Linked DNA regions of Homo sapiens: regions 1 and 2 are each reported to be linked to region 3. Evidence: microRNA targets listed by miRTarBase, many of them from high-throughput screens and not tested one by one. Region 3 holds a microRNA gene; each other region holds the end of a gene's coding sequence. Distances are between the middles of the regions.

What was found. The annotated mature microRNA hsa-miR-4731-3p reads CACACAAGUGGCCCCCAACACU and lies in region 3 at 6,579-6,600, opposite strand. An mRNA with a match to its seed (bases 2 to 7 or 8) in the 3' UTR can be bound and repressed. Matches are read on the target gene's strand: a 7mer-m8 pairs with bases 2 to 8, a 7mer-A1 pairs with bases 2 to 7 and ends in A, and an 8mer does both.
Region 1: miRTarBase lists MRPL12 as a target of hsa-miR-4731-3p. Seed matches in the 3' UTR shown: 7mer-m8 at 8,845-8,851.
Region 2: miRTarBase lists MFSD6 as a target of hsa-miR-4731-3p. Seed matches in the 3' UTR shown: 8mer at 6,600-6,607 and 7mer-m8 at 6,489-6,495.

The regions. Positions count from the first base shown.
Region 1 is chr17:81,705,853-81,716,107 of GRCh38, reverse strand. MRPL12 (mitochondrial ribosomal protein L12) reads right to left here. Exons shown (of 5, transcript NM_002949.4): 4 at 9,068-9,202; 5 at 8,591-8,984. The coding sequence ends at 8,868. SLC25A10 (solute carrier family 25 member 10) reads right to left here and starts at 3,824. Exons shown (of 11, transcript NM_012140.5): 1 at 3,589-3,824; 2 at 1,036-1,155; 3 at 516-630; 4 at 367-415; 5 at 58-99. The coding sequence starts at 3,681. RefSeq lists silencers at 3,333-3,382, 3,393-3,502, 3,513-4,182, 5,255-5,549, 8,537-8,666 and enhancers at 4,783-5,052, 5,255-5,549, 5,227-5,927.
Region 2 is chr2:190,498,223-190,508,477 of GRCh38, reverse strand. It overlaps MFSD6 (major facilitator superfamily domain containing 6), which reads right to left. Exons shown (of 8, transcript NM_017694.4): 8 at 6,164-8,463. The coding sequence ends at 8,260. NEMP2 (nuclear envelope integral membrane protein 2) reads left to right here. Exons shown (of 9, transcript NM_001142645.2): 9 at 1-4,140. Among named protein-coding and RNA genes, the nearest start is that of NEMP2, 31 kb to the left of the region's middle.
Region 3 is chr17:15,245,056-15,255,310 of GRCh38, forward strand. It overlaps MIR4731 (microRNA 4731), which reads right to left and starts at 6,641; the gene lies at 6,572-6,641. The region is part of intron 3 of PMP22 (peripheral myelin protein 22); the gene reads right to left.

The sequences.
Region 1 (10,255 bases), 66 Mb from region 3:
GCTCCCGCCCGAGCCTCCTGCACCTCAACCACCCCGAGAAGGCCGCCCATGACTCACTTGCGCCGCTGACCCTGGGGCAGCTTCACGTCGTTCTGCATCCTGAAACAGAAGCAGGTGGCGGGAGGGGCGGGCGGGCCGAGGGGCATGGGCAGCCCTGGCAGCACAGGGGAGCTCACGCTGGTCAGCGGGGCCCACAGGACAGGGCACGCCGGGGCTCAGGGACACCCACCCTCCTATGCCCAGGACACCAGGGTCTCAGTGGCTTATTCCAGGCTGACCCCACCCTGCAAGCAGCCCTGGCAGGCCCTGGCATGTCTGGGGACAAGAAAGCCCCTGGCCTTGCAGGTGGGGTGGGGGAACACCAACCTGACGTTGACCAAGTCTGCGGGCGTCCCCACGAAGCCTCCAGCTAAACCTGCGGTGACACAAACCCCAGAGATGAGCCGTGCTGACACACGGCGTCCTCGGCCGACCTGACCACCCCGCGCCCCTCCCCCTCCCGCCCGGCAGCTCACCGCTGACGGAGCCCAGCAACACCTTCTCGTGGAAGGGGAGAGGCCCCTGGCTGCCCTTGGCCACACGGTCCCGCACAGTCTCGTAGATGGCGAACCGAGTCAGGGAGTAGGTCATCTGGGGGAGAAGGGCCTGGCTTGGAGGGACGGGCACGCCCCACACCCCTCAGCCTCGCCACCCGGCCCAGCCAGGGATCCCCCTCAGCCCGAGGGGCCACAGGGACCCTGAGGGGCCTTCCCAAGGCCACTGTGCCAGCATGCGGCTGAGCCAGTTCACAAATCTAGAGCTGCACCCTGCTTTCTCACTCCCTGGGCCTCAGCTTCCCCACCAGTAAGTGGCGGTCTCAGGCCCAGCCCTGCAAACTGGGTGGGTGCCCATGGGAGGCGCACCCTGGGGTCACCAGCTCTCGGCCTGGTGGGTCCTTCCTTGCACAAAGTCTTGAAAAGGGGACGGAAGTAGCTTGGATGCCACTGCAGGACTCAGCCCCAGTCTGGGAGCCCAAGGCTGGCACACACCACGCACCTGTCTGCACAGCGAGGCGCTCAGGCCGCTGTAGAGTGCCAGGATGCCGTCGGTACGCACCACCCGCAGCGCCATGCCCGTCATGCGCAGCTTCACCTCCTGCTGCGTCTGCAGATGCACCTGCGGGAGTGAGTGCTCTCAGACCCCACAGCGACCCCGAGGGATCGGTGCCAGGTTCATCCAGAGAGGGGGAAACTGAGGCAGGAGGCAGTGATAAGGCCTCCCACGGCCCTGCCCGGGGACTCCACACCCGTGCCTGGAACCAGCTCACACCACTGCTTTCCAACAGCAACCACACCAGTGGACATGGAGCTGAGAGTGTCCGCGAGCCCCGCGAGCGCCCCGCGTACCACCTGAGTATTGGCTGCACTGGCCGCAGGGGCTCGCCATTCTCCTTCTGCAGATGAGGAAACTGAGGCATGGAGAGGTAACGCACCCGCTGGTGCCATCAGGATTTGGGCCCAGCGAGGAGACCCCAGAGCCCTACTTTTTATCCACCACACCACGTCTCAAGAGGGACAAACGTTTATGGCCGCTCAGAAACGGCGAGGGAGCCTGCAGGACCATGGGAGACTGAGGAGGTAGCCATAGAAGGCCTTGAAAGGCAGCAGGAGCTCAGCAGCAGACAAGGGGACGGTGTGGCTGGCGGCAGGGCATAGCGGCCTCCTCTGCAAAGCACCTAGGAGCTGTGGGCAGGCACTCGGGGGCTGTCAGCCCGACAACCTCCCATTCTGTTGGCCTCCACCACTCACAGGACCTCTGCCTCCTCGCCTGGCCAGCTGAGAGCTCCCGGCAGTAGGGGGATTGGCCAGGGCCAGACAGGAAGGCCAGCACCTGGCCCAGGATCCCAGCTCCTGGGTCCCACCCCCAGCACTGACCCCAAAGAAGTCCTTCCGCCGCTCAGTGTGACCTGCACGTGCGCGGCCCCGTAACGCACGCCCAGGGGTCGGCAAAGATGGGTGGGGACAGAGAGGGGCCTCCCATTGTGCGAGCCCAGCAGAACAGAGGGACTGGGCCACACAGGTAGCAGCCCCCGTCCCGGCCAGATGCGACGGTAGGGACTGTAGGGACATGGGACAAAGTGCTCAAGAAGCTTTAAAAGATCTTTCCGACGGCCAGGCAGAGAGGCCTGGTGAGCAGTCCTCAGGAGCACACCCTGACCACAGCGCCATATGCTGCCAGCAGCTGGCTCCTCCCGCCCTCCCAGGCCAGAGGGCAGTCCCGCCTCCCCCAGGCGGTGTTCTGCAGCCAGAGAGCGCCTGGTTGGGGAGGGCCAAGGGGCAGTGGGGCTCAGACCCCGGACAAGGGACAGCAGCACGCAGGTCCCGCCTTCAACACCCAGATGAACGTGGGAGAGGCCCTGGGGGAGGGGCACCTGTGCGGCGCCCAGGAGGAAAGGAAGAGCCCGATGCCAAGGAGGGGCTCGCTTCTTCTGCCCATGCCAGCGCCTTCCTGTCGCTGTGGCTGCATCTCACTGGCCGTGGCTGCCTGTGGCCTGGGAGCTCTGAAGGCCTCTCCCAGGACCAGTGAGGTCTCAGGTGCCCCAAGACGCCCACATCTGCTCACCTGGCCTTCACGCAGCGACCAGCATTGTTGCTCATTAGTAAAGCCAGTCCCCTCAAAGGCTGCTGGAATACAAGTCCCCTGGACAGGCTGCTAAAATAAAGGTCCCCTAGACAGGCGGCTGCCCAGTGACCACAGCCAGGTTCACAGGGCAGGGCCTGCTGGGCAGACTGTGCAAAGCCTCAGGCCCTTTCTTCTTTGTTCTCTGTGGCAAGACACGGTCAGAAAACAACGCCCCTTGGCTGTCCCTGGGAAACAAGGAGAGCTCTGTCTTATTTTGCCCCATAAGCATTAAAAAAAAAAAAAAAGTAAAAAAACGGTGGCTGCTTCTCGTGCTGAGAAACGCCCGCTTTCATAGGGCCAGGACCACACGCGTGCAGGGTCTCCTGGCATCTCTCCTGGGGGTGTGCTGGTCCTAACATCGCTTCCAGTGCCCACGCAGCTCTCCGAAGGAAGCAGCCCAAAGCCGGGGCATCGGGTCACCCCACTTGCCCAGGGACACGTCCGGCGGTGTGCTAAACACCCCTGGGTGGGGGGCGGCTTGGCCCACACCCTGGGTATGCTACAGCCAGCACGTCTCTAGATGCCAACACCTGTGCACCTCACAGAACTCCCCCCACAACTTCTAACTAGGCGGAAGGAGCGTTCTTGAATGTATGGGGGTGGGTGGCTCAGAGAGGCCAAGTGACTCCCCCAAGGTCACCAGGTATTAAAGTGTAGAGCTGGGGCTGGATCGCCACCTGCCGAGAACTGGGAAGCCGGCTGGGAAGCTGGGGAGCGCGGCTGCGCCCTGCAGGCCTCGAGCTCGGCGGCCACCACTGGAGGGCCACCCGGGATCGGCCATCCGGGCGTCGGGGGCCTCCTCGCGCTCTCCAGGAGGGAGCCCCGGGCGCGGCGATCCCCGGGTGCGTGGGGCCGGGCTGCTGCCTTTGCAGGCGTCTCGGCGGCGCCAGGGTCCCATCCGCCCCGCGTCCCGGGCCCCGGCCTCACCTTGAGCAGGTCCAGCGGGTGCGTGCAGCAGGCGGCCCCGCAGGAGGCCAGCCCCCCGAAGTACCAGCGCGACACGCGCGCCTCGGCTGCCATGGCCCAGGAGAGCCCAATCCCGGCCCGACCACAACCCGACCCCGGCCCTACCCCGGCGTGTACCGGCCGCAGCGCCCCGCGCCCCGCGCCCCGCGCCCGGTTCAAAGCGCCGCCCGCGCGCCCGCACCCCGCACAGCCAATGCGCGCGCGCGCCCCGGGGGCGGGACCGCTAGGCCACGCCCCCTGCGATTGAGGCGGGCCCGGCGCCTTAAAGCGGCCGCGAGGGGCGCCGAGCGCGGTGGGCCCGGCCTGCGGACGCGCGGGTGCTCCGGGGCTGCTGCGTGGCCGCCTCCACTCCCCCGGGCCCCTGGCGTCCTCCCTTCTCCAGGCCGGAGCGCAGGGCCGAAGGCCACCGCCCGGGGACCGGCCCCAGGCACATGGGACCGCGGCGGGCGCCCTGCCAATCCCCAGGAGGCCCGGCCCCTGGCCCTGAACCTGCACCCGGTGGCCACCCCGCCGCGCAGGCGCTGGCTCGTGAGTCACCTGGCGGGGGCCACGTGTGTGCGGCGTGGGCCCTGCGTCCACAGGTCTGCAACCCCTGCCCCCACCGAGGGCTCAGCCCCGGCCCAGCTGCAAGAGAACAGAAAACCGGCTTCGGGAGCCGGGCGCGGTGGCTCACGCCTGTAATCCCAGTTACTCAGGAAGCTGAGGCAGTAGAATCGCTTGAATCCGGGAGGCAGAGGTTGCAGTGAGCTGAGATCGCGCCACTGCACTCCAGCCTGGGCGACAGAGCGAGACTCCATCTCAAAAAAAAAAAAAAAAAAAAGAAAAAGAAAAGAAAAAAAGAACCTGCTTGGGGCCAGACTGAATGAAAACTGGGAAAAAAGGCGGTTAGGAAGGACTTGCCTCTCCCTTCCCACACACAGATGCCCGGAAGCTCCTGCTCAGTTCTGGTCTGGCTCTGACCAGACGCCCCAGGCAACCACCCTGGAAGTGGGGCCCCGGGGTGGATTCTGGGGCTCTTGTTCCCAGGAGATGCCTGCCTGCATCTGGGCCCCTGCTTGGATTCCACTTCCCTGCGAAGAACAAGGAGGCGCTGGTGTGTTCCTGGCCCAGGTGCACCTGCTGGGCAAAATGAAATTTAAGTCCCCAAGGCTGCTTTAGGGCTGGGCCACAGGGATGAAGACCTGCAGCTCCAGCTTGGTCACTGCTGTCCGGCCTCCCCCACCCTCCAGGGCGAAGGGTGAGGAGCACCGGAAAAACAACTCGTGGTCCCTGGAACCCCTCAAGCACCAGAATGTGTCCAGCCCTGCCTCTGCGCATCCAGCGATGCCCTGGCTGTGTCGGAAGCGCAAGACGCACACTTAGGATTTTCAGCTTGGCTGTGGGTTTATTGGGCCGTAACCCCAACGTAGGCAGGTAGCCAACTGGAGGAGACTGTTTTCTAGACCCTTAGGTGGCCTCTGACCCCAGAAGTCATCAGCGGAAGATTTGGGCTGGGGAGTGAGCAGCTAACCAGAGGCGGTACCCCTGCCCGGAAGTGTGTCCTGGACCTTGGTTTGGTTGGGTCCCTCAGGTGTTGCCCACACAGACCGTAACTACCTGGCAATCGAGAAGGGTGCCAGATGGACACTGGGGGTGAAAACACAGCCACGCCTGGTGGGGAAGCGGGTGGAGGTGCTCAGGAGGCAACCAGGAGAGTGCAGTGCAGCACTGCCCGCACCAAGCCTGGGCTGGGGCTCAACAGGAAGCGTGGAGATGGCGCAAATGCACCGCAGGGACTCAGAGGGATCACGCTGGGCTTAAAAGGCCCAGAGCAAACAGACTCAACCGTTAGGAAGCAGGGGAAGTGGCCCGATCTTAACGGAAATTTCCCAGCAAGAGGACAGGCTTCCTTGTCCGGGGCCATCCAGGCTCACACCTGACTGAGTCCCGCAGACTTGGCTGTGCCCACAGCGCCTGTCTCACTCAGTGTAAACCGAGATGAGTTGCATCCATCGGCTCCCGATTACCAAGAATCAAGAGGCGATGGATGGAAACCTTGGGGGAAGCAGGGCCTGGAGGGCCAGTGTCCCCTGAGTCTGTGAGACACTCCAGGAAGGAGGGGGGCGGGCCTGGGCTGCAACCTGTCCCTCCGAAGGCCACCTGCAAGACAGGGCTGAAACTGGCTGCTGGCAGAGACCCCCCAACCCACAGAACACTGGCTCCCTGCTGAAGGAAGAACTGCTCCAAAGCAGAAAGAGCAGGGCCCAGCGGGTAAGGAGCAGGAACTGAAGAGCTTTACAAAGAACAAAAAAGGCTGGGCAGGGCAGCTCTCACCTGTAATCCCAGCACTTTGGGAGGCCAAGGTAGGAGGATCTCTTGAGGCCAGGCGTTTCAGACCAGCCTGCGCAACACAGTGAGACCACATCTCTAAAAAAAATCAAAAGATTAGCCAGGCATGATGGCACGTGCCTATAGTCCCAGCTACCTGGGAGGATGAGGTAGGACGATTGCTTGTGCACAGGAGGCTGAGGCTGCAGTGAGCCTTGATCAGGCCACTGCACTCCAGCTCGGGTGACAGAGTGAGATCGTGTCTATATTAAAAAATAAAAATAGGCCAGGTGTGGTGGCTCACACCTGTAATCCCAGCACTTTGGGAGGCCGAGGTGGGTGATCACCTGGGGTTAGGAATTCGAGACCATCCTGGCCAACGTGGTGAAACGCTGCCTCTACTAAAAATACAAAAATTAGCTGGGTGTTGTGGCGGGCGCCTGTAATCCCAGCTACTAGGGAGGCTAAGGCAGGAGAATCGCTTGAACCTGGGAGGTGGAGGTTGCAGTGAGCCAAGATCGTGCCATTGCACTCCAGCCTGGGTGACAAGAGCAAAACTCACTCAAAAAAAATTAAAATTAAAAAAGATAAAAATAAGGTTCAAGACCAGCCTGGCCAACAGGGTGAAACCCTATCTCTACTAATAAAAATACAAAATTAGCTGGGCGTGGTGGTGCATGCCTGTAATTCCAGCTTCTTGGGAAGGTGAGGCAGGACAATTGCTTGAACCCGGCAGGTGGAGGCTGCAGTGAGCCAAGACTGCACCACCAGCCCAGGTGACAAACTGACACCGTTTCATAAAAATAAATACATAAATAAGTAAATAAAACATTAAAAAAAATAGAACAAAAGTGCAAGGAGCTGTAGGGGACTGAAGTTTGTGAACTCCGTGAGCTAGAGATGCTGGGAGAGCAGTCAGAAGGCGAGGAATCCTGAAAACAGGAAATGCATCCAGGGCCAGAGGCTTTTTCAAATGATGAATCTAGAACTGCAGGTCGGGGACTCACAAGGATCCCTGATGGATTCTCAAACGGATCATAAGTTATGTCGGTAGGCCCAAGGGGGTGGTTGGGGCAGACTGAGCAAGCTCACGGGACAGGGCTCCCCGTCCAGCCTCCGACTGCGGCCTGGCATCCACCGCAGTGTCCTGCTGCTTGGCATCCACAGGTTATTTTGGGGGTCCCCCGGCAGGGAGGAAAGGGCCTCTCGGTGGCTCCTGCGAGTGGCCTGGCAGACGCCTGAGCCAGGGTAGACAGCGAGGAGTCGCGGGCAGAGATTTTGCTGGTCTATCTGGCCTGGGTGCAGCCTGGATGAAGACAGCATGTCTGTCTGACCTCAAGCAGGGCTCGTCCCTGAGCTCAGATGTTCGCTGCCTTCCAGAGGGGAAAGGCAGTTGGGGTCAGCAGGGCACCAGGCAGAATGCACCCAGCTCCAGGTGGCAGTGTCACCTCCTGAGGGAAGACCATTAACCCCTCAAAATGGATACCATGGCCAATGGGGACTTCCAGGCTTGGCTTGGGACAGCCTTTCCTGGGGACAGCAGGTTAGTCAGAGAAACTCTACCAGAAGGCCTTGGAAGAGGACCTGGGCCAGGCAGGGTGTACACGCACAGTGAGCCTGAAACTCCCTGCCCCTCCCGCTCCCCCAGGAGTCCCAGCCAGTGGGCAGCTTCCAGACACACGGTGCCCCTTTCTGGTCCCATCCAAGGGATCCTTCCACCAGGAAAACTGAGGCTGGAGGGCATGGCAGCCTACGGGGCCATCACACCAGGCATGTTTCCCGAAGCAGGTGCGGAACATGGCCTGTCTCTGGCCTCATTGTGGGCCCACAGCCTGGGGGCTGGCCTTGGTCACGGGCCAGCTGAGACAGAAATTCGCTGATTCTCTCCCAGGCTTGGCTGAAAACAGGCGTGCCCAAGAAAAGGCGGCCACGGGTCCTCAAAGCAAGGCCCTGGCCGTTCCAGCCAGGCCATGGGGCCACACCCCCTGTACTCAGCAGTGGCACCAAGGGGTCTGCAGCCCGAGAGTGGCTGCCAAGGGCTGCCCAGCACTGGGCCACACCTCACCAAGTGCACAGTGACCAGTGCTCCAAGCTGACCACGGCACTCCCGGTCCCCATGTCCACAAGCCCCTCCTGCCGCTTTGCCCAGGTCCCAGGATACCCCACTTAAGGGCCCCAGAGGAACAGCTGACACCCCAACCCTGCAGATGGCAGGTGCATCCCACACCCCTCCCCAATCCCCCTGCGCAGCCCCGTGGCCGGGTTTAGGTTCAGGGGTACTTGCAGCCTAAGCTAGGGGTGGCATCGCCGGCTCCAAGGCTGCCTCGGTTTCTCAGGCGAGTGCTGAACTTCCTGTTGCCTTAAAGAGGGCCAACACTGAAAACAGGGAGGGTTCCCGCTGCCCAGGTCCTCCACACCACTGCCGTCCACCAGGCCCACTGTGGGGTCTCAGGACAGGGCCCTGCACACCGGGGACCTGATGAATGTCTGTAGACTCTCAGATGTCTGCTGAGGAGGCAGGGAACAAGCCTCCCATCCCGTACCAGCCTCGATCCCCGCACTGGCCCCGCAGCTCGGCCTGAGCACCGCACTCCACACGCTGCCCGGATCCCCGCACTGGCCCGGCAGCCCGGCCTGAGCACGGCACTCCACACACTGAGCTGCACAGTGTATTTTTCTCAGCAGCCACCAGAGGCACATTCACCGGTGGCGCGTCCTGGTGGGCCTCCGGGTGCCGTCACCAGGCAGCAGCCGCCCCTCCCTCCCGCCACAGTAGGTCTGTGCGGCCTGTCCGGCCCCGCTGCGTGGCGCAGGCAATTCTCCCAAACGGCTCCACTGGGCGCCTGGTGCTGGGGGCGGAGCCAGTGACCACGGGAGGGCGGGACCTCGCCCGGGGCCCAGGACCCCTGAACACAAGTCCTCCGAGCTGGAGGCTACTCCAGAACCACGGTGCCGCCCACCGCCTCCAGGGCCGCCTTGATCTTCTCCGCCTCAGCTTTGGCGACATTGGCTTTGATTTCCTGGGGCAGGGACTCCACCAGCTTCTTTGCCTGCCAGAGAGAGCAAAGTCAGGGACTGGGGGCCCTGGCCACCACAACGGAACCTGCCTCGGAACCCCCACCGCGGCACAGACCTGGACGAGGTTGATGCCTTGGATGTAGTTCTTGATTTCCTTGATCAGCTTCACTTTGTCCACGGGCTTCGCCTCGGTCAGGCGGACGGTGAAATGTGTCCGTTCTTTCGCTATGGGGATATCTTCTTCCACCGCCTTAGGGAGCAGGAAAGAAGGGGAGCCAGGTGACAAAGGGCTGGGGGGAGCTAACGCCTCCACTGCTGGGCCACCCCAGTCTAAAGCCCCAAAGGGAGGTGCAGCGGAGGCCCCAGCGAAGCCTGGAGTTGGAAGTCACGTCTCCCAACTCATCAATCCTTAACCAGCTGGTGCTTTTTCTTTTCTTTTCTCTTTTTTTTGAGACGGAGTCTCACTCTGTCATCCAGGCTGGAGTGCAGTGGTGCGACCTCAGCTCACTGCAACCTCCACCTCCTGGGTTCAAGCGATTCTCCTGCCTTGGCCTCGCGAGTCCAGCTGGTGCTTTTTCTCTCATGCTAGTCAGAGGCAGGTCTGCCCAATAACTCTTTGTAACATGCCTCGGACGGGAGTGGTGGCTCCGGTGGCTCACGCCTGTCATCCTAGCGCTTTGGGAGGCCAAGGCGGGTGGATCACTTGAGGTCAAGTTTGAAACCAGCCTGACCAATATGGTGAAACCCTGTCTCTAGTGGTGCGCGCCTGTAATCCCAGCTACTCGGGAGGCTGCGGCATGAGAATTGCTTGAACCCGGGAGGCGGGGGCTGAGATCGCGCCATTGCACTCCAGCCTGGGTGACAGAGTGAGACTCGGTTTCATAAATAAATAAAAACATGCTTCACAGTCCTTCCCTCAATACTCTACTCCCCTCTCGCTTAGAAAGCGTAACTTATGAGACAGGAAAGAACGACACCAAAAGTGCTTTGTAGATAAAAGCAGCGCCATTCCTTTCTCAGCCACACTGCAGTGCACGTGTGCCGAGAAAATGACAACCCGCCATGGGACTGACGGGCACGCTGCGCTTCTGACGTGGCGCATGGAGACCCAGCACCACCCGAGGGCAGGGGGCTGCGTGTCCCCACGGCCTGGGAAGGCTATTAATAACATCTTCTCCCTCCTCAAAAGCAATCCAGTTTACACAACAGGCTCTACAGTAATCCCAGCTATTCTTACCCAAACGCTCGGCCTGAATCTAATCAGCCTTTAAACTACCTTCCAGTTCTCAGGCATGAGTGATGC
Region 2 (10,255 bases), not on the chromosome of region 3:
AGAGGTTAAATAACTTGTGCAAGACCACACTGAGATGCAGCACTGGTAGAAATCCAGCCCTGATGTATCCTTTGACTCAGGTAGACAAGATCTTCAGGTGCAAGCTTAGGAGCCATCTCCCTACAGCCATGGGCCTCACAATGTTGGTGGCTTTACTTTTTATTTTTCAATAATGGCCAACTTGCTATTTAACTGTGATAAAGGGAAATGTTTCTGAAGACATTTTAAAGTTTTTTATACATACGTAAGATTTTTATATACATACGTAAGGATTAGATACTATGATTACTTTTTTTGTATTTTGAAATTGAAGGCACTTAAGCTCTTGTGATATTTTGAATTGACTGATCCATTTAAAAAATTGTTTAGCTATAGGTGTTTGTAACAATTTCTTATAAAATGATTTTTTTTCTTGATTCATGATATTAAACTCCAGATTGAAATGAGGGGCTATGAGCTTTGACCCTGAGGAAAGAAGGCCAAAACATAGATCTGAGGAAAGATTTGAACATGGCAAGACAATCTCAGGGTTAAGATGTTGCTAAGTTGATTCTGAGAATCAAAATCAGGCTTTTTTTCCTGTGATGGGATCATAAAAATAATCTTTTTATCAGGACAAAGGTTATGGGCGAAGGATAGACAGAATTTTGGCACTGCTGCTTTCCTGAGCCAAATTAAGTAGTTTTTCTAAATCATGAAAAAAGAGCATGACTATCCATCTGGAACTTCCTAGATTGATTTTCAAATGATAGTTCCTCTTTGAAGTATTTACAGGTCTGTTTTTGCCAGACATCTTTTCATACTGGGAACTTTTTTTTTTGTAATATCCACTAAAGTTAATCTGCCTTTATATAGACTTGGATTTTTAAAAAACCAAAGGATATATTTTCCATTCAGATTTATGGTAACTATTTTATGAGTAAATAGAAGTTTGAATATTTTTCTTATGGTTTAATCTGTTTTTTTAAATTATATTTATTGGTGATATAAATGTATCAGATGTATCAGTGCCTGTGCTCACCAAGTTCGTCTCCTAAGAAGCAGTTTGTGTGCTACAACGTATGCGTATGAGTAAATAACACATGAACAATCTGCTGGGGCTGCCAGGTACATCCCAGCCAGGACAGCCGCTGGGCCAGGGGGAAGAGGTACTGCTGAGGGAAGGAAGCAGCTCTTCATGGGCAGCTAGCCAGGTGTAACCATCACAGTAAAAACAGCCAAAGAGAGAAGAACAACAGCAGTCCTTGAGGATATTGTTTTCCATGTTTATTTTTAGAGGAAATCATAGGTTTGTCAGTTTCTGCTTTGTGACTACTGTGAGAAGCTAAACAATTAGAAGCATTACTTGTGATATTTTTAGTGTATTTATGTTGTTTTCATTTGATTTGGGGGTGTATTATAGTACTGATCACAATTCTAATCCCCATCAAGCAATGTACAGATAACTCTTCCAAGAAATGTTTCCCTCCTTTCTTTCCTCCCTTCCCTTCTCTTTCTCCCTCACCTCCTGTCTCCTCTCCTCCTCCCTTTTTAAAGGCCTTTGAACAGTTTAAACGACCACTCAATAAAATGGCTCTGCCCTTCACAGGTGGTTGGAAGTTGGCTTTGTGCCTCACACACCATAGGTGTATAATTATGGAGCCTAACAGATCCCTTTGTTATTTTACTGCTTATGCTTGGTGCCTACAAAAGCTTACTGTTGTTAGCAAGTTGAACTCTTTGACACCAGATGTGTGGGTGAGATATAGTGTAGGTGGCTATGCTTAAACAATCGTATCATTCAAGTGTTATTTTTAAAAGGTTTTAAAACACATTTTACATATCACAAAAAATGCTTTGTGAATTAGTTGTATGGTTTGCCAGTAATACCTAGGGCTGAATTACAGGGGAATGTCCATCTGACATGAAGGACAATATTTCAATTTATGACTTTTTAAAAAAATCTGGAAATTTCATATATTTAGATTTTAAGAGGGTTTGGAATAGATGATGGATTACATAAAAATATCTAAATATGTGGAGGAATTAAGATCCTGAAATGATGTCAACTAAAGAAATGCTCTCTTACATTATGCTATGTGTGATTGTTTCCCAGAGTGAGAGATGTACAATTTTATAAATTAGCTTTTCTTGTCCAACTGAAAGCAAGATAGACAACATAATGGATGTGGAAGTTTGAAGACACCTGCAGGAAGACAGAGAGGTACTTTTAGGTGACAACAGGAGCAAGCTGCCTTCTGAGAGAGCCTGCTGGGTGGCATGACATTGAAGAGTGAACTATTTGGGTGTGACTGTTAGCCTTATTGACTTAGAACCCTGCTTTTTGTTATTGCACCATAAGACCTGTCTCTTGTTAGTCAATTCATATAGTTGGTACAGGTAGTGATTCACAACCAAAAATATAACTAGCATAAGGATAAAAACACTTGACTTGATATGACCAGCAGATTCTCTCTCAGAAGACAGATTTACAAGGGGTCAAATTATAATAAGGTGGCTACTTGGTGAACTGAAACAAAACAAAGGGAGCTTGTTATATAATTCACATGGTTAATGTCATGAGGCCAAAGAGTTTGATGCAGATGCCACCCCCCACCCCAGTGGGGCTAGCCTTGTTAATGGGATGAGATACCAGGTCTGTTGACAAAGACCACGCCTTCCTTTATGCAGGTCCTGCCAACTTTTTCCTCTCTGTGACTGCTGTTTTTCTAATCTTCATTATTGACAAACATCCCACCCCCTCTGATGGGCATATTTTTACTCAGATGTGTTAAAATCTTTAGTCTTTCTCTGGCCTAGGAGTTGGATTATCTTTTAAAGGTAACTGTATTTTTTTTGTTATGATCCCTGAATGTGAAACCTTAATAGGTCACCAGAGATTTGAAATGAATACTATACTTATCTAATATAAATCTTGGAAGATACAGTTAGTGGGTAGCTTCTCTATTATTTAAATAATTTGAGGCATCTGTTTTTTTAGATTTGGTCGTTTTTCCAAAAAAGAAAGACTGATTGAAAAGAGAAAGGGAAAGAATACCAACATTGACTAGAGATCCATCAGGCACTATATGAGGCACCTTCGATACCTCTTAATTTGCACCTCATGACCACTCTGTGATATGTTTTGGTATTTTCATTTTACAGATGAGGAAAGACCCAGAGAAGGTAGGAGAAAGTTGCTGAAGGACACATATAGCTAAAGTGGTAGAATCAGAATTCAAGCCCCCATATGTCTGCTTCCAGGGCTCATATTCTACTTCCTTTATTTATTACCATCTTTTTAAGAAAGTGAAGGAAATGACCCCATGGATAAGGCATTCAAGAGGTGACTACATCTGCTGATGTTATACACATACCAGTCATTTGTGCCCCGCAGCAATGGACACTGTAGTCTGCGGCTCTTGTCAGTGCTTCTCAGACTGTCTGGGGTGATGGACCAGTTTCCCTCTAGTTCATCACTAGTAATACTTTTGTAAGATACACTAAATTATTAGAAAAATGAAATAATCTTTGAAAGAAAAGACATACAGAATATAAGCACGATGATCATGTCATGACAATGTCAACTTGCCATACATATTTTGAAATGTCTAATTTCTATGTTGTCACATACCAGCAGTAGTTTGACAGCACCAGTCATTGAGCACACTTTGAGTAGCACTGGTCTACATGTTATTTTTCTAAGATGCCAGTGATCTTTTCAGGAAACAAAAAAAATCCGACCTTTTTTCAAATGTAAGTTTACAATTTAAAAGAATAGCATCCTACACTGACTATTGGAGAGAGTATGGTATATAATTTGTTAAATGATTATAAAATTGTTTACTTTTGTTGACACCTTTAAGAAGAAAAAGAAAAATGAAAATTATGAAACTTATAACCTCTCTCAGCAGACTTTTGCACTTTATGGAATTGTCACCATCATCACTTTTTTCCATCCTCTTCAACTTAAGTTTTGCTTAATTTTGTCTCTTAACTAACTCATATCCCCAACCACTTAATGTTTACAATGCATGTTGGAATTGAATGCCTTACTGTACAGCTTACTAGATATAGGTAAATATGTATAGTATGGCACTGTAGATTGGGAGAATGGAATATGATTATAGATTTAAATGGCAATAAAATAATAGAACTAGACCCTGGTTGGGGAAATGAGACAGCGCTCCTCCTGCCCCGGGCTCTTTGCTGCACAACAATGGCAGTATTTATGGAGCACACACTGTATGTCAGATAACTCATTTTAAACATCAACCTGTTACATACCTACTGTAATCACTTCCGTTTTACAGAGGTGGGTCCTGAGGCCCAGAGATGTTCTATGTGTGTGTAAGTTCTCACTGGCAGAGCTGGGACTCAAATGCAAACAGTGTGACTCCAGGGCGCACACTCCTAACCCCAACATTGTAAGGTCCTTGGGTTGCCATCTAAAAACTGGGACTTTCCTGGAGCCACAGTGGGGGACAAGTGGTCCTATATTAGCTGCTTGAAGCAGATGGCAGCTGGTTGAGAGTTAGGTACACAGCTGGACTGGCACTTAGCCGGACTGGCTCACTTTCCCCCCATGTTAGACATCAGCAAGTTTCCAGTTACTCCCTTATAAGAAGCCACAGTTTGTCCTGGCATAGTGTAAATTACTTTCTGAGATCTGACAAACCACTCCCCCTTTCACCCCTTTTCTGTCCCCACCTAGGCACCAGCCTCTCTCCCAACTGCCCCATGGTTTGGAATTCTTAAGCCAGATATTCTCAAGGCTTTGCTAAACAAGCCCAGGAGTGGTTTGGGGCTTCAGAAGTAGCCTTTGTCTTGTCTCCATGCTCCAAAGGGCTGAAGAACTTCCAAATGGAAAATCACCTCTTTCTTCCCTACAGTCACTGTCAAAGCATACCTTCATTTTCATAGAATCAACATAACCTTAAGCTCTAACCTCTCACACTGAAGCTGAGGAAACAGGCCCAGAGATCTCCCGAAAGGATCTCTTCCTGTATACCCGTGCTGTCCAGTATGGTAGCCTTGAGCCACGTGTGGCTATTTAAAATTAATTAGAAACCTAATTCCCCAGAAAATTAGCCACATGTCAGTTGTTTAATAGCCACATATGGCTTATGGTTACCATCCTGGACAGTGTAAATAGAGAACTTCCCATCTTCCCAGTAAGTCCTACCGGACAGTACAGAGCTGTGGGTGTGTCTGCTTTCCCTTCCTGATTTCCATGGCCCTGGCCAGAGTCCCTACCAACCTCTGGGTTTCCTGTGCAGTTATCAGTCCAGCCAACTCACCTGCAGAGTGTAAAGGGTCTGGTGTACCTACATTTCACAAAGCATCAGGAATTTGAAGCATTTCTAGGAATCTAGGAATATCTAGAAATCCTAAATGGAAATACAACCACACACATACACATATCAGGCATGTATGGTAATGGTTCAGGCTGGGCTGCTTTATGGCTTCCTCTGCCATAACAGATGCAGGGAATGGCCTCCCTGCCTCCTGGGGTGGGGTAAGGTGCTAAGCGGACCAGGGCTTTGACATTAGGAAGATTTGAGTTTGAATCCTGGCTTTGTGACCTTGATCTCATAACTTAAACTGTTAGCTTCAGAATTCTCTTGTTTAAAATGGGGATAGTGATAGGAACACCTCCAGTTTTTGTTAAGGGCAAAATGATAATCTCATCAGCACACTACAAGCACCCAATATCCACGGATGTGGTTCCCTTTTCCTAGATTCCCTGCTGAACTCCAAATTGGCAGAGAGGAATATTGCCTAAGTAATGGTCTCAGTACCTCAGCAGTACTGGAAGGAATTGCCAATTAGAGGGAAGCTATTAGCCAGCTATCCACTTCATGTGACCCATGGCAGGATTAATAAGCCAGTAAAGCAGGGTTGCTCTTCCTGTGAATTCCTTAACACTTTTCATGAGGTTTACTGCCTGCTGGACAATGTATGTATTATAATCTATTCCTAAAACTTGAGGAATAGTTCAATAATTAGCAGTTAACCACTTTGGATCCACACAAGCTCAGCACTCGGTAATTTACTGTTTCTACAACCATAGGAGAAAGAGTAGGAAGTAAGTCATTAAGGCAGTGATTACCAGCCTGGGCTCTGTGACACCCCTGTGTGTGTTGAGGGATCTCAAGAGGGGTTACAAAATCTCAAATCAAAATGTAATTTGAATTCACTTTAATATTTTTTAAGGTAGCATATGGCACTTTGGGGACAGGAAGAAAAAGTCACAAAGTCCACAAACCCATGAAGGTGTCAGCTCACAAGGCTGGAAATGACTGCATTATCGATTCTGCTGTCACAGTAAATGTTCCATAACAAAGGCATGTTGAATTTGGTCTCATTCATTAGAGTATAGGACTTTTGTTTGGTCACATCTTTATCATTTAAGAAACATTTAAAAATGGTATTCATTTTTATTTCAACATGTCAACTGTGCATTTCCAAAACAGCAGGCTTTTCAAAGGAATAAATCAGAACTGTAAACACAAGATACAGTACAAGTTTTTGACTTCCTACAGTCAGTTTCACAAATCCACATACTGTACATTCATAGGTGAGGTTAAGCCTGTCACCCATTTCTTTATTTCTATAATTACACAAGCATAATAAATACATCTGATTTTAAAGGTCACTTAAAATGAGTCATAATTTACAGTACAGTACGTTTCAGTTCAAGTGCAAAAAATAACTATTTGCTGAATTCTATTTCTTTCAGTTATTTTATTTTTAAGCTGTGTTTTATTGTGAAGCGAGACATCCAAGTGTAGAATTTCTTATCCCAAATGCAGTATTGGGCAGAACTATGGTGTCATGGAGAAGCCCTCACTTTACAATTGATCCTGTCTAATCAGGGTCAGAGGGTAAGGTGAGTTGCTCATTTCGACTGTTCTTTTCTTTCCTCTCTCTCCTGTGCTCATCCACAGCTATTATAAATTATATAATTCACCTTTATTCAGCTAAAACAGTTTTCCCTTTTCCACACTCCCCCCAGGTTTCCTGTTAACCTCTGCTTTGATTTTTAGTGGCAAGCTTTACGTGCGATCCACCCAGCCATTGTTCTGGCTGCAGTTGTAACGTTTGCAGTTGCATACATTACATTGTCCAGTGTCTGACTGTGTCTTCATGAGAACGAATATACTGAGATTTTCTTTCTTTAGTCATTGGAAAGTATAGTTGCTACTTATTGCCATCCTTCCCATTCATGGTTTCCTATTTACCACCTTTTCCTCACCAAAAACAAAACAAAACTGACCCAATATGTAATTTCTAAAAATTGTATCCTTCCCCCAGGCACTTAAATCTTATACTGTGATTTGTAACTAGTACTGCTTATTTAAGGAACTCTTAGGAATTCAGTGATTTTTGTGTGTTTCATTCCCTCAGCTAATTAGAGCCTGAATTACTATAAGATAGTAAATAGCGAGAGAGGCTATTTACAGTATCAATATATTTAGTAAACTCTTGTCTATCAAAACACAGGATACTGAGTTGGTTGGTTGATTTGAAATAATCGCTTGTTTCTGTTTTTTTTCTCAAAGCCCATTTAAAACAAAAGGCATTTTTAAGCTCGGCTTAGCTTGCAGTAGTTAATAATAGCTTCTGTTGCTCAAAGAATTATTTCCATTATATGCCATACACATATAAAAATATATTTGCTAAAGATATGTAAAGTTTCTGATGAAACTTTTAACTTCATTTTTTAACTTTAACTTTTAACTTTATTTTTAACAAAAGCACATGTGCTACTTTTATCTGGTTACTTTTTAAATATATCTTGTAATTTTTTAAACGGTTCTCTCCAAGAAAAAAGAAAGTATAGATGAATTCTATCTCTTCCCAGTTTGTGTTAGGAACCAAATAAGAATAAATAATCAGAAGAGGGAAATTATATCCACATTCACCTCGAAACACTTTCATTCCCTCCACTTACTTAGTGTAACTGCCGGTTTCAACTCTTACTGCACTGGCAGAGAAATTCTATCATCCTTAACCTAACCAAGCAAAGAACTGAAAGTCCTCATTGAACTCCATTTCCCTGTTGTAATTCCAATGAGATTACGAAAGTTTACCTTTTCCTGCCAATATGTACTGTAGCTCCTGTGTGTGTGTTTCCATGTTAATGAGTTTAGATATTTAGAAGCATATGCAGTGCTGTGCTCCTCCAGGGGAGGCATATCCTGGCTGGGGGGCCTCACCCTGTGTCCTGGCTGAGGAGCCTGATTCCATGCAGGGTGTGAGATGAGCAGGATGCCCTCAGTGTCCTCCCGCGGCCAGCTGAGCCTGCTGCTCTTCACTCTCCTCTGTGCACGGGTCCACACTGGGGTGAGCGGGGCTGGTCTGCGTCTGAGATGCTGCTGCGTCAGGGGATGGCTGGTTTCTAGATGGGTCAGAGTGAGTCTCACATGGGACAGGCTGGGCTCTACCAGCAGGAGAATTTTCCCTATTCTCATTGGTCCCCTGGAGGTAAAAAACAGGAGATGCCCCATGATCAGTGATAGCAAATAAATCCAACTTTTTATATATGCTTTCAAGTAAGACAGGAAACATGGGGAGATCATCCGGAAGTGCCCATTTCAGGGACCAAGTAATAGAGGAATAAGGATAGAATGTCTTACCTTTCATCTCCTTTCCTATGTGCAACTGCCAGAGCCGCATGAAAAACACAAACACTATAAGCAGACGTGTCTTGTGGAAAAAGGAACATTACTACCAAAATGTCTGTTAGTACTTGGTAAACAGTTTACATCAGCAAATATTTACTGAGCCCCCCAAGCCATGTGGCAAGTCGCTGGGCAAGCACTATGGAATAACTGAAACTCAGGCCGCTTGCTAAGACCACAGAATCCAAGAGCCAGAAGACACTTTGTCTAACAGGAGGTAAATAAGGGGTTCTTATCCTTGGAGGCAGAGCTGGGAAAGAATGTCCTGTAATTAAGAGTCCTGATATATATTTGGTATTTCAAAATGTGCACCAAAAGTTAGATAAGACAGAACATCCACATAAAGAAGTGAATGTAAACAAGCACTTGTGTAACCAACTGTAAATAACCATGAGTAGAACATCACCAGCAGCAATTTCCATAAATGCCATATTGGTTGTACAAATAAAAAAAAATTTAAATGGATTCTCCCCCAAATTAGTACCCATCACTTTTTGGCTGAACACCCAAATAAAAATGTTCATTTCTGTGATTCTACAATGAAAGAAAAAGAAACTTAGTATAATGACTTCTAAGAATAACTACAGCATACCTGCCAGTTTTTATTAATCCTAACATACCAGAAACATTTTATTTATTTATTTATTATTGTTATTATAATTTTGAGACGGAGTCTCACTCTGTCGCCTAGGCCGGAGTGCAGTGGCGTGACCTTGGCTCACTGCAACCTCCTCCTGCTGGGTTCAAGCAATTCTCTGCCTCAGCCTTCCATAGTAGCTGGGATTACAGGCACCCGCCACCATGCCCAGCTAATTTTTATATTTTTAGTAGAGACGGGGTTTCACCATCTTGGCCAGGCTGGTCTTGAACTCCTGACCTCGTGATCCACCCACCTCGGCCTCCCAAAGTGCTTGGATTACAGGCATAAGCCACCATGCCCAGCCCAGAAAAAAATTTATTAATCCTAACATACCAGAAAAAAAGCGCCACATCAAAAATTTTATGTGGCTTCTGTGAAAATGAGGATGAGTACACAAAGTAATGAAAATATTGCTACTCAAGCAGCAGATATTAAAATCATCCTTTCTCCTGTTTAGTCTTCTTGCTTTAAGGTATTAAAATCCTCCATATGCATCTCCCACCACAATATCTGGTTCTTGACTGAGCAGAGTAATGATGTGAGTTTATTATCTTGATAAATTAATAAATAGGATCATGCATGGACTAGCATGCATATGGTTATCAGTAAAGAACCAGATTTGGTTAAAATTTCACAAAGATTTTATGTTAGCTTACAAAGTGAGATTAATTAACAGTTCAACAAATTTTCTGAAAGGGGAATTACTCAAATGACCCTTATTTTTAAATCTTTCCCCTTTATTTTTATGTGTCCTCTGAAGCTACTCCAGACAAAGCTGACGTGACTTATCAAATAAAAGGGAGTGATTATCATGAGATGGGGGAACTGAGCCTATTTCTTTGGCTAAATTGTTTATAGAAGTTACACTCATTTTCCAAAGTCGGGATACACCTGTACAATTATCCACACTTTTATCAACATGCTTTAACTTTACTCAGGAAAGATCACT
Region 3 (10,255 bases):
TCCAGTGCCATTGATCAAAAGCTACACAAGGACAGCGAGAGGAAAAAAAACAGAGCCCAGCCCAGGAGAAAGCAAACTCCATTCCAGCTCCAAAAGGCTGGTGCAAGATTCAAGAGCTCTCGTTGTTGCTCAAAGGGAACCCCACAGGGCCCTGAGGACATTTCTAAGCTCAGATGATGCTGCTCCCCAATCAGAGCCATTCATCAGAACTGGAATAGACAGGTAACAACCAGCGCAGTAAGAGACAGCAGATATCACACACTCCAGAAATGACAGGGCTTTGATCCTGTCCAAGGTAAGGGTCCCGTGTGAGCACGTGCAAAGCCTGACTCTCTCCAGCATTTATGTGCTCTGGTTAGGACAGCCCAGGCAGGGCTGGGCTCTGTTGCCAAGTTCTTCTGACCGCCCACCTAACTTGCCACATACATTTTTTTGGCCTTGAATTCTGCTTTACGTACTTGAGGCACTAATATATTTTATTGGGTTGTCATAATGATCAAACAAAAGAGTTGTTATTGAAGCGCTGTTAAAGGATAGTGCAAATAACCCCACCTAAAAGGCTGATGTGAGAAAACAGGGTAAACAAGCATTTACAGGCTGTTATTGAGGGGCCAGGTTCTGGAGCATTTCCATCTGGGTCACACCAAGCAGTATGAAAATGGGAGCCACAGGCCGGGCGCAGTGGGTCACGCCTGTAATCCCAGCACTTGGGAGGCCCAGGAGGGCAGATCACGAGGTCAGGAGATCGAGACCATGCTGGCTAACACAGTGAAAACCCGTCTCTACTAAAAATACAAAAAAAAAAAAATTAGCCGGGCGTGGTGGCGGGCGCCTGTAGTCCCAGCTACTCTGGAGGCTGAGGCAGGAGAATGGCGTGAACCCTGGAGGCGGAGCTTGCAGTGAGCCGAGATCGCGCCACTGCGCCACTGCACTCCAGCCTGGGCGACAGAGCAAGACTCGTCTCAAAAAAAAAAAAAAGAAAAAAGAAAATGAGAGCCACAATGTTCACACAAGCCAGGTTATTAGCACATTGGCCAGAACTCCAAAAGTGTTTTGATACAACTTTGGTATCAATTCATATCTCCTCTCCAGCATAAGGGTGCTACAGAGTCAGAGTGCAAATATCTGCACAGATAGCAAACTATCTATAAAGAATCAGAGAGCAAATACTTTAGGCTTTGCAGGTCATACGGTCTTCTTAACAACTACTCAATTCTGCCTTTGTATCACAAAATCAGCCATAGCCATGGACAAGATGTAAATGAGTGGGTGTGACCCATTCCTTCAATAGCCATTTATCCAATAAAATCTTATTTACAAAAGCAGGTTGGATTCGACATGCAAGCTATTATCTGCCAAACTCTGCTACAGCAAAACAAGTCAGCTGTACAGAAAATAATGATTCGAGTTCAGAGAAATATAATGCAAGTGAAAATGCTGTCAATTACAAACCTGTTCTATTTAGATCAAACCTAGTGTGACACCAACATCCCAAGTGGCTAAACTATAGATTAACACAAGCCCCAGTGTGGCGATACTCTTCCCCACGCCCCACCCAATTTGCAAGTATGCAATAAATAGTAGAACTTATGTTGAGTACCTGCTGTCCTCCAGGCCACACTCAGTTCCTGGTGCAAAGTGGAGGCCTGCTAAACATTTGTGGAGTTTCCAGTGGAAGTTTTAAGCCAATATCCAACCTTGGTGCTGAGCACTGGAATTAAAAACTAAAGCTCTGGCCGGGCGTGGTGGCTCATGCCTGTAATCCCAGCACTTTGGGAGGCCAAAGCGGGTGGATCACAAGGTCAGGAGATCGAGATCATACTGGCCAACATGGTGAAACCCCGTCTCTACTAAAAATACAAAAATTAGCTGGGTGTGGTGGCATGTGCCTGTAATCCCAGCTATTTGGGAGGCTGGAGCAGGAGAATCACTTGAACCCGGAAGGCGGAGACTGCAGTGAGCCGAGATCACACCACTGCACTCCAGCCTGGAAACAGAGCAAGACTCGTCTCAAAAAAAAAAAAAAAAAAAAGGCCGGGCGCCGTGGCTCACACCTGTAATCCCAGCACTTTGGGAGGCCAAGGCGGGTGGATCACGAGGTCAGGAGATTGAGACCATCCTGGCTAACACGGTGAAACCTCGTCTCTACTAAAAATACAAAAAATTAGCTGGGCGTGGTGGCGGGCACCTGTAGTCCCAACTACTTGGGAGGCTGAGGCAGGAGAATGGTGTGAACCCGGGAGGTGGAGCTTGCAGTGAGCCGAGATGGCGCCACTGCACTCCAGCCTGGGCGACAGAGCGAGACTGTCTCAAAAACAACAACAACAACAAAACTAAAGCTAAAGCTCTTTGCAGGCCTCCTGTTCTGAGAGTGTCCGGTATAAGAGCTGCTGACAGCTTTCTGACATGGGCCGTGGCAGCACCCAGACCTAGCTCCCCCAGCAGATAGTGGGAAGCTCGAGTTGCACAAAGATCAAAGCTCATTTCAAGGTCAGATTCCTGCTGTAGGAGCAGCTGAGCAATGAAGGAAATACATCAGCCCCCTCAGCTATATTCTTAGCCCAGGGCCTACAACCTAGTGAGTTAAGGGCTCAGAAAGTATGAAGCACTTTTCAATGTAACAGTTTATGTGCATCTTTCATTACCAGCATGGAACCAACCCTGCCCCATATCAAGTCCCACTCTGGGCAATTCATAAAACTGTTCTGACTCAAGAGAACAGGTTTTGTTGAAAGTGAAAGGAAGGACAGTTGCAAGAGTCAGAAGAGACCTTGGAGAGGCCAAGAGAGAAAAAGCCATGAGAGGGTAAATCACAGAGGCAAAGAGTTATTAACACCTCCCATTTGCATAGTGCTAGACTGTTTTCAAAACACATGACCCCAAGACCAGGACTCCCACGCCCAAACCTCCCAACCCACAACCATCACACAGATCGCCATTTTCCTTATTTCTCAGTATGAATGTCATTCCAGAAATAGCTGAGTCTCTGAAAGGCCTCCATCCTAAACAATGTGGCCTTTGCCCATATGCTTCGCCCACCAGCTCAAACATGCCCAAAGCCCAGCGTGGGTCTTGCCCCCTGGGCTTCAACTTCTCCCCCAGCTGGTGGCTTTGAAATGGGCTTGCTGGTCAGGCTAACTTTGCCTATGATTCATGCGGAAAGCAAAACAGATGGAGACAACTATGTGCCAGCATGGAGCTCACAAAGGCGATGAAGGTGACGTGGGCGGCTCTCTCAACAGGTAATCCTGGGGGTATTTTAGCTAGAGCAAAGCCTGTGTCTGGCCACTAGTGGGCACAAACTGCTCAGTAAGTGGAAGGAATCTTCATGTCAAGGTATTCCAGCTAACTTTGATACAGTTATTCAATGAACTGCATTCCTAATTAAGAGGCTTTGTGGCAGGCACAGAGCTAGTTTGTCAGGGTCTAGTTCTGCACTTTGACATCCATATTCTTGCTCTGCTAGTGAGTTTTTGGACTTCTAAAGGGAATAACACGCAGCCACTGAGGTACCTGAGGTTACTGGATAATAGTAAGCTGTCTGAGGCTTTTTTATACCCTTGTTGGAAAACTCTAGAAACAGGGAAACAGAGTAGGCTTTGTTTCTCTAAGAATTGCTCTTGGAAGACTTACTCCACCAGATACAAAAGAAAAAGGAGGGGAGTGCATTGTACGATGAAGGATATCAATCTCCCTCCTTGGTAATTCACAATGTACCATGAATGATCAAAGCCTGCTTAACTTTCAAAACTTAGTGTCTTTCAAACGGATTTATCAGGAGACTTGTTTTTGTTTTTGTTTTTTAAAAGAAGAGCTCACTTAAAAACACTGAGTTTGGCCATAGAAAATGACGGGAAAGGCAGTTGCAATTGCAGTCATGAACTGCATCAGTGGAGAATGAACAGGGAATAATTCGCTTAGTTTTAAGATCTTCAGGTTTAGGAGGAATTCTCCCCATAGAAATAATAGAGTTCTCCTCCTTCTTTCCCCTAAAGTATGAAAAAAGAACACGCATTATGGAAATGAAGAGCTAGAACAAAAGAGCTGCTACCCCCACCAGTGACAGTAAACCAATGCCCGTTTACAAGCACAAAACCCATCTCTGCTCCCTCTGCCTACTGCAATTCTACCCCATTGCCAAGGCCCAGCTCAGAGGCCACCTCCTTTTAGGATCCCTCGATGCCACAATTACATCCTGAACATGAACAGAGGCTCCGGGACCCATGCAATGTGCAGGTCCTACCTCAACTTCAGGTCCTACCTCAATGCCTGCTCTGCTTTTAGGAAACCAGGGTACCTGCCCCAGGTTACCTAATTTGTTACAGGCAGACCCGGTGCAGAAAAACAAGGATTCCCTGATGCCCAGACTACTAGTTTTTCCACTACAACACACTGGGGGTGCAGAGAAGTCAATGATATGCTTGCAATCTAATGAATTAAATTATTCTACCACCATTCTTCAGACTTAGAATCCACAAAAACTAGAGAGGGTGGAAGGAGAATGGTGTGGCAAAGAGAGAGCGGCTTCCCTTATTCTCTGCTCATCAGCCTGCCAAGCCAAACCACTGACCAAACTTCAGAAGGGCAAGAAGAGGCCCTGCTTATGCAGCTGGGACCAGCACCAGAGAAGCCACTGAAAGAAGGAAGGAAAGAAAAACTGCAATCGTCAACTGTTTGAAGAGTCATCGTGTAGAGGAGAGACGGGGGTCACCCTGCAGTCATTGTCCAGGAGGCACTGTGGAGATTTAAATTCTTTAAGGACGTGCCAAGCAACTTGATAAAACCCAAGTCCAGCACATCAGGCATGAATGAAGGCAACTAGAAGTGAATGGACAAAAGAGGGGCAGTGTTGGGTTTAACAAGGTAATTTCTTTTTTTGAGACGGAGTCTCACTCTGTCGCTCAGGCTGGCGTGCAGTGGTGCGATCTCGGCTCACTGCAAGCTCCGCCTCCCGGGTTCACGCCATTCTCCTGCCTCAGCCTCCCGAGTAGCTGGGACTACAGGCACCGGCCACCACGCCCGGCTAATTTTGTTTTGTATTTTTAGTAGAGACAGGGTTTCACCGTGTTAGCCAGGATGGTCTCAATCTCCTGACCTTGTAATCCGCCCGCCTCAGCCTCCCAAAGTGCTGGGATTATAGGCGTGAGCCACCGCGCCCAGCCGAGGTAATTTCTTAAGTGACAATATCTCCTGGCATTCCTCCCTCATCACTGGCTGTTCATCCCCAGTCTCCTCTCCTTCCTGTACCCTCGTTAACCCCTGGCATGCCCAAGACTTAGCTCTGAACCCTGTTCCCCTTTTCTGCCTTCTGCTCTCAACTCCTCCCCAAGTAACTGTATTCAGCACCACAACATTGAATACCCTTCGGTATAGAGGAATGACTCTTGACTTTGAATTTCCAGCCCAGACCTCTCCCCTAAGCCAAAGACTTCTAAATTGAAGTGATTTGCTGACCTCTCTGATGGTCAAAATATAAATCCTGATTTCTACACCTTCCCGCAAATCTTCTGTTCCTCCTCCAGTCTCCCCATCTCAGTCCAAGATTCAGTTACACACCAGTTGCTCAAGCCCAAAACGTAGAGTCATCTAGAATCATTCTTCCCTAACTCCCTACATCTAACCCATCAGCAAACCCTGTCATGAGACCTGTTTTCTTCTCTACTTCCCCTCCCTAGCTAAGCCACCAGCTACCTCCTAGAGTTCTTGTGAGGATTAAATGCATTGCTTTTCAAAGAATGCCTGGCACTTACGTGAGCTGTTTGTATTCTTAACATCATTGTCATTGTCATCATTGTCATCTCAGTGTCATCATCATGTCCAGTCTGGACTATGACCACAAACTCCTCACTGGTCCCCAGTTTCCACTCTTGCCTCTCCCCAGAATTCATTCTCAACAGCCAGAATGAGCTTACAAAACATGAATCAAATCATGACACTCTTCTGCTTAAAACCCTTCAATGATGTCCCAACTGTCCTTCTCAGTACCACAGCCTGTGAGGCACCAGCGATCCTGCTCCCATCCCTCTCTCCCGCATTCCCCACCCTCCTTTCTTCAGCTAACTCAGGGCCTTGGTTCTTCCCTTTACCTCCTAGAATTTTCTTCCCATGGTTCTTCCTATAACTGGTCCTTCCCTGTCTTCTAAATCTCAGACCACATCACTATGGAAGGAAGAGGCCTTCCCTGAGCAGCTCATTCCTCCAGTGATGACTTTCCATTGGATCACCCTATTTGTTTCCTGCAGAGCATGTTCCACTACCCATAGTGATGCATGTATTGTGTATTGCCTGTTTCCTCCAACTCCTTGTGAGCTGCACAATGGCAGGGACCTGCTCTTTCTTGTTCATCTCTGTGCACCCCATTTCTAGAACAGTGCCCAGTACATAGGACAGGCTCAATAGAGTTGAAGAACACATGAATGGATCTCACTATTAGCTCTTCAAAAACAAAAGAGGCTCTCTTGAAGGTAATAAGTTCCCCATCAGTGGTAGGATGAACATGTGGTAGGCATATTGCAGAGGGGTCTGTGGCTCGATGGGATAGGAAGGAGGGATGGGCCAGATGACTCCGGGTCCCTGCCAGTGTTGGGGGCCACTTGTGTGTGGATGACTGCACACTCATGTGGCCCCCAGCACTGGCAGGGACCTGACCACAGTCAGAAGGCTTCATCCCAGACAGCCTTCTCTCGGGCACCAAAGATCAACATCCACAACCTCAGGCTGCACCATGGCCAGTCCCTGCTCCTGAAATGCAAGGGATGTTTTCTTGGTGCTGGTGAAATCTTGGGGATACAATTGAAGTTTTTTTAAAGCAAAGACTATAGATTCCAGGTCATACAGTTCAGACACAGGTTCAAACAAACATTTCATACTAATTCCTGGGTATTGGCATCAGAGAAACCCTAAGGGTTGAAATCCTGGCATGTTGACAACACATTCCGTCCTCTGTACCTCCCTTGTACCACCAGGGTCTCAGCATCTCATAAGAGCCTGTAAAATCCAGAGCCATTCCTTGGGTAGAGATTATGGGTTGGCTGAGGGAGCCACGAAGATTTTAAAATGTAAAACATGAACCCATAAATGCAGAAGGTCTCCCGTGTTTTCTAAAATCTGGCCAAAAGCTGAGCCACAGACAAGGAAATTGTCTGGTGTCCTTGCCAAAATGACAGTGTCACCAAATTGATAAACAAGTCTGGGATCGTTTTGAAGACAGCGATGATAGGAGACCACCAAGGGCTCAGGTTGGGGGCTGCTGAGACTGGCAAGATTTAGTTTCTCTAATTTTCAACCCAAAGCATTGATCTAATTCCTCACACAACCTATTGATAGTCATGAGTTTGCTGTTGCTGCTGCTGCTGCTGCTGCTGCTGCTGCTGCTGCTGTTTAAATGGAAAAGAAGAGTAGTAAGTGGTCATCTTCTCAGCGTCTGGTGCTGGTCCCGCCCACACACTGTGGCAGAGCAGACCCACCTGTTGTCACTGGGAAATGAGGGGCTGCAGGTACTGCCCTTAGACAATGGAGGTGGCCAAGGACGTTTGGGGACAGATTACAGGAAAGCTCAACAATTCCCTTCATGCTTTGGTGTTGAGCACTGGCCTCCTTTTTAAAAACAAAAGTGATTCAAAAAGGGGCACATTTTTTGTGCCTAACACCTCAGCATGAAAAAGTTTATCAACTACCTTTTCTTCTGAGACAAGAGAGGACTTTGTGAGCAGGGACAGGCCCTGAGAGACAGATTTTACTGAAGACAAACTGCCTGGGTCCTGCCTCATCACTGAAGCTGATGAAGACCAGCCAGGGGCCAGGGCAAGCCAGGACTGTGCCCTTCTAGCTCTTGGGCTCCCAAGCCGCCTGTGGCTTAATTCCAGTATTCTGACCCATTCTGCTACACGTCAGGTCCACACAAATTAAACAAAAAGCAGGGGAATGCTTGTGAGAACTTGGACTTGATATTTGGATCTTGGAGACTTCAAAACAAAAAGCACTGGTTCATTCAATAGCAGGGCAAATGTTTTGCCTGAATCCTTTGGGTCAGTAGATTTTAAACTCACCCATAGGGTCTTGGGGAGGAGGCTTGGCACACCCCTCCCCCTCACCAGAGCCTTCCAGATTGTATGAGTTTGCAAACTAAAGCTCCAGGAACTGGCCTCATTCAAAGCGACGCCATGGACCCTGCGTGCCATGCCCCAGGGCTCCACTCTCTTAATCAAGGCAGAGGGAACCTACTTACTACTCAAAACCAATTTTCTAACATAAAATGTTCACAGTTATTTTCTGATTGTGAAAATAAAAGATCTCAATGAGGAAAACAGGTAAGGCAGCAAAAGAAAGAAAACAGCCAAAGTGATAAGAATCCCGTCACCCAAAATAATCACTGAAAATATACCGATGCATTTCTACCTTGTACAATTTCTGATATATTCTGCCTTATAGAGGCTTCTGGACTGTCACTCCAACTTGGAATCAAATGGACCACTGAGAAACCCGTGGAAGACAGCAGGTCTAAGGAAATCACAAAGATTAGAAATGCATCCATGTGCACCCAACTCCTTCCTAGTGGGGGTGGGGGGTACCTTTGAGATGGTCTGTGATTCTACTTACCCCTCACTCTCTGTTCCCACTAGTCTGCCCTGCCCTCTGTCCCTCAACTACGCCAAGCTCCTTCCCTCCCCAGCGATCTTGCACTTGACGGTCCTTCTGTATGGAACCTCCCCGAGATGTTCATATGGCTGGCTCCTGGCCACTCCTCAAGGAGACCTTCCTTCACCACTGCAATCCCTCTTTATCCCATTACCCTGTCTTATATAGTTCTTACCATTGCCCCCAAATTCTCCATGTTTACTGACTGGTTTGTCCAGTAAAACATAAGCTCTTGTTCACTCTTGTAACCTTAGCACCTGCAATAGTCTCTGGTACACGAGAGTTGTTCAAGAAATAGTCCTGCATGAAAGATCAGAAGAGAAATGGAGAGACTCCCGAAGTGGGAAGTTCACATTTCAGGACGTGAGAAAACGCTGAAATTCCAAGATGAGGGGAAGAGAGATGGGAGGTGAGACTTAACAGAAGCAGGAGTGGATCATTCAGGTAGATTCCGATGGGCCTTGTTAAAGATTTTCATCTGAAGATTAAGACCAATGAACGGCCTCTGAAAGGTTTCAAAATGAGGAGTGATATAATTAGGTTTGTGCTTTTTTAAATATCAGCCTGGATTCCATATGAAAAATGAGTCACAGAGGAGCAAGAAAGGGTTCAGGCAAACTAGTTAGGAGGCTGCCCTGGCGCCTCTGACAAACGAGGAAGCAGCGTGACCACAGGTGGGCAACAGGCATTGGAACAATGGGGTGGCCTGAGGGACCCGTGACAATGCTGAGAAGAGAAAGAAGGAAACGCGTCAAGTCAAGGCAGACTCTAGATGTTTGGCTTGCTGGCTGGTGAAGCAGCATTCACTAAAATACTAGAAAGTGACAGAGGGGTTGAATTGGCAGAGGAAGATAAGGACTGTCTCTGGCCTAGTGACTTGGGGGCCTCTCTTAGATATCCCAAGGGAAGTGGCCAGGAGACAGCTGGATAAACAGGTCTGGGATTCAGAAGAGAGGTCTGGACTCATTAAATAATAATAAGATGGCCAGGCATGGTGGCTCACGCTTGTAATCTCAGCACTTTGGGAGGCTGAGGCAGGTGGATCACCTGAGGTCGGGAGTTCGAGACCAGCCTGACCAACATGGAGAAAGCCCGTCTCTACTAAAAATACAAAAAATTAGCCAAGCGTGGTGGCGCATGCCTGTAATCCCAGCTACCCGGGAGGCTGAGGCAGGAGAATTGCTTGAACCCGGGAAGCGGAGGTTGCAGTGAGCCAAGATGGCGCCACTGAACTCCAGCCTGGGCAACAAGAGTGAAACTCTGTCTCAATAATAATAATAAGACTTACTTATACCTGGAGAGGTGGTAGAAATAGAGAGAGAGAAGCCTCAACAGGTCCTAAAGTTTCTGAGAAGAGCCCATGTGAGAATGGTGGGGTGGCTGACAGAGCCCAGGATGCAGCAGAGATGGACTCTTTGAAGAATGCTGAAATAACTGGGACTTATGGAACTGCATAGGGCCCAACTGAGCTATTGCAAAAGAGTATGATTGGGTATGGGAGGGGATGGTCAAACCCTCAAGGAAAGTATTCCACACCAGGCTTACAGAGAGGTATTTGCTGCCAGGTTTCTATGATTTGAAAAGCCATGCTTCCCCCAAGGCCGAATGACTATATTTC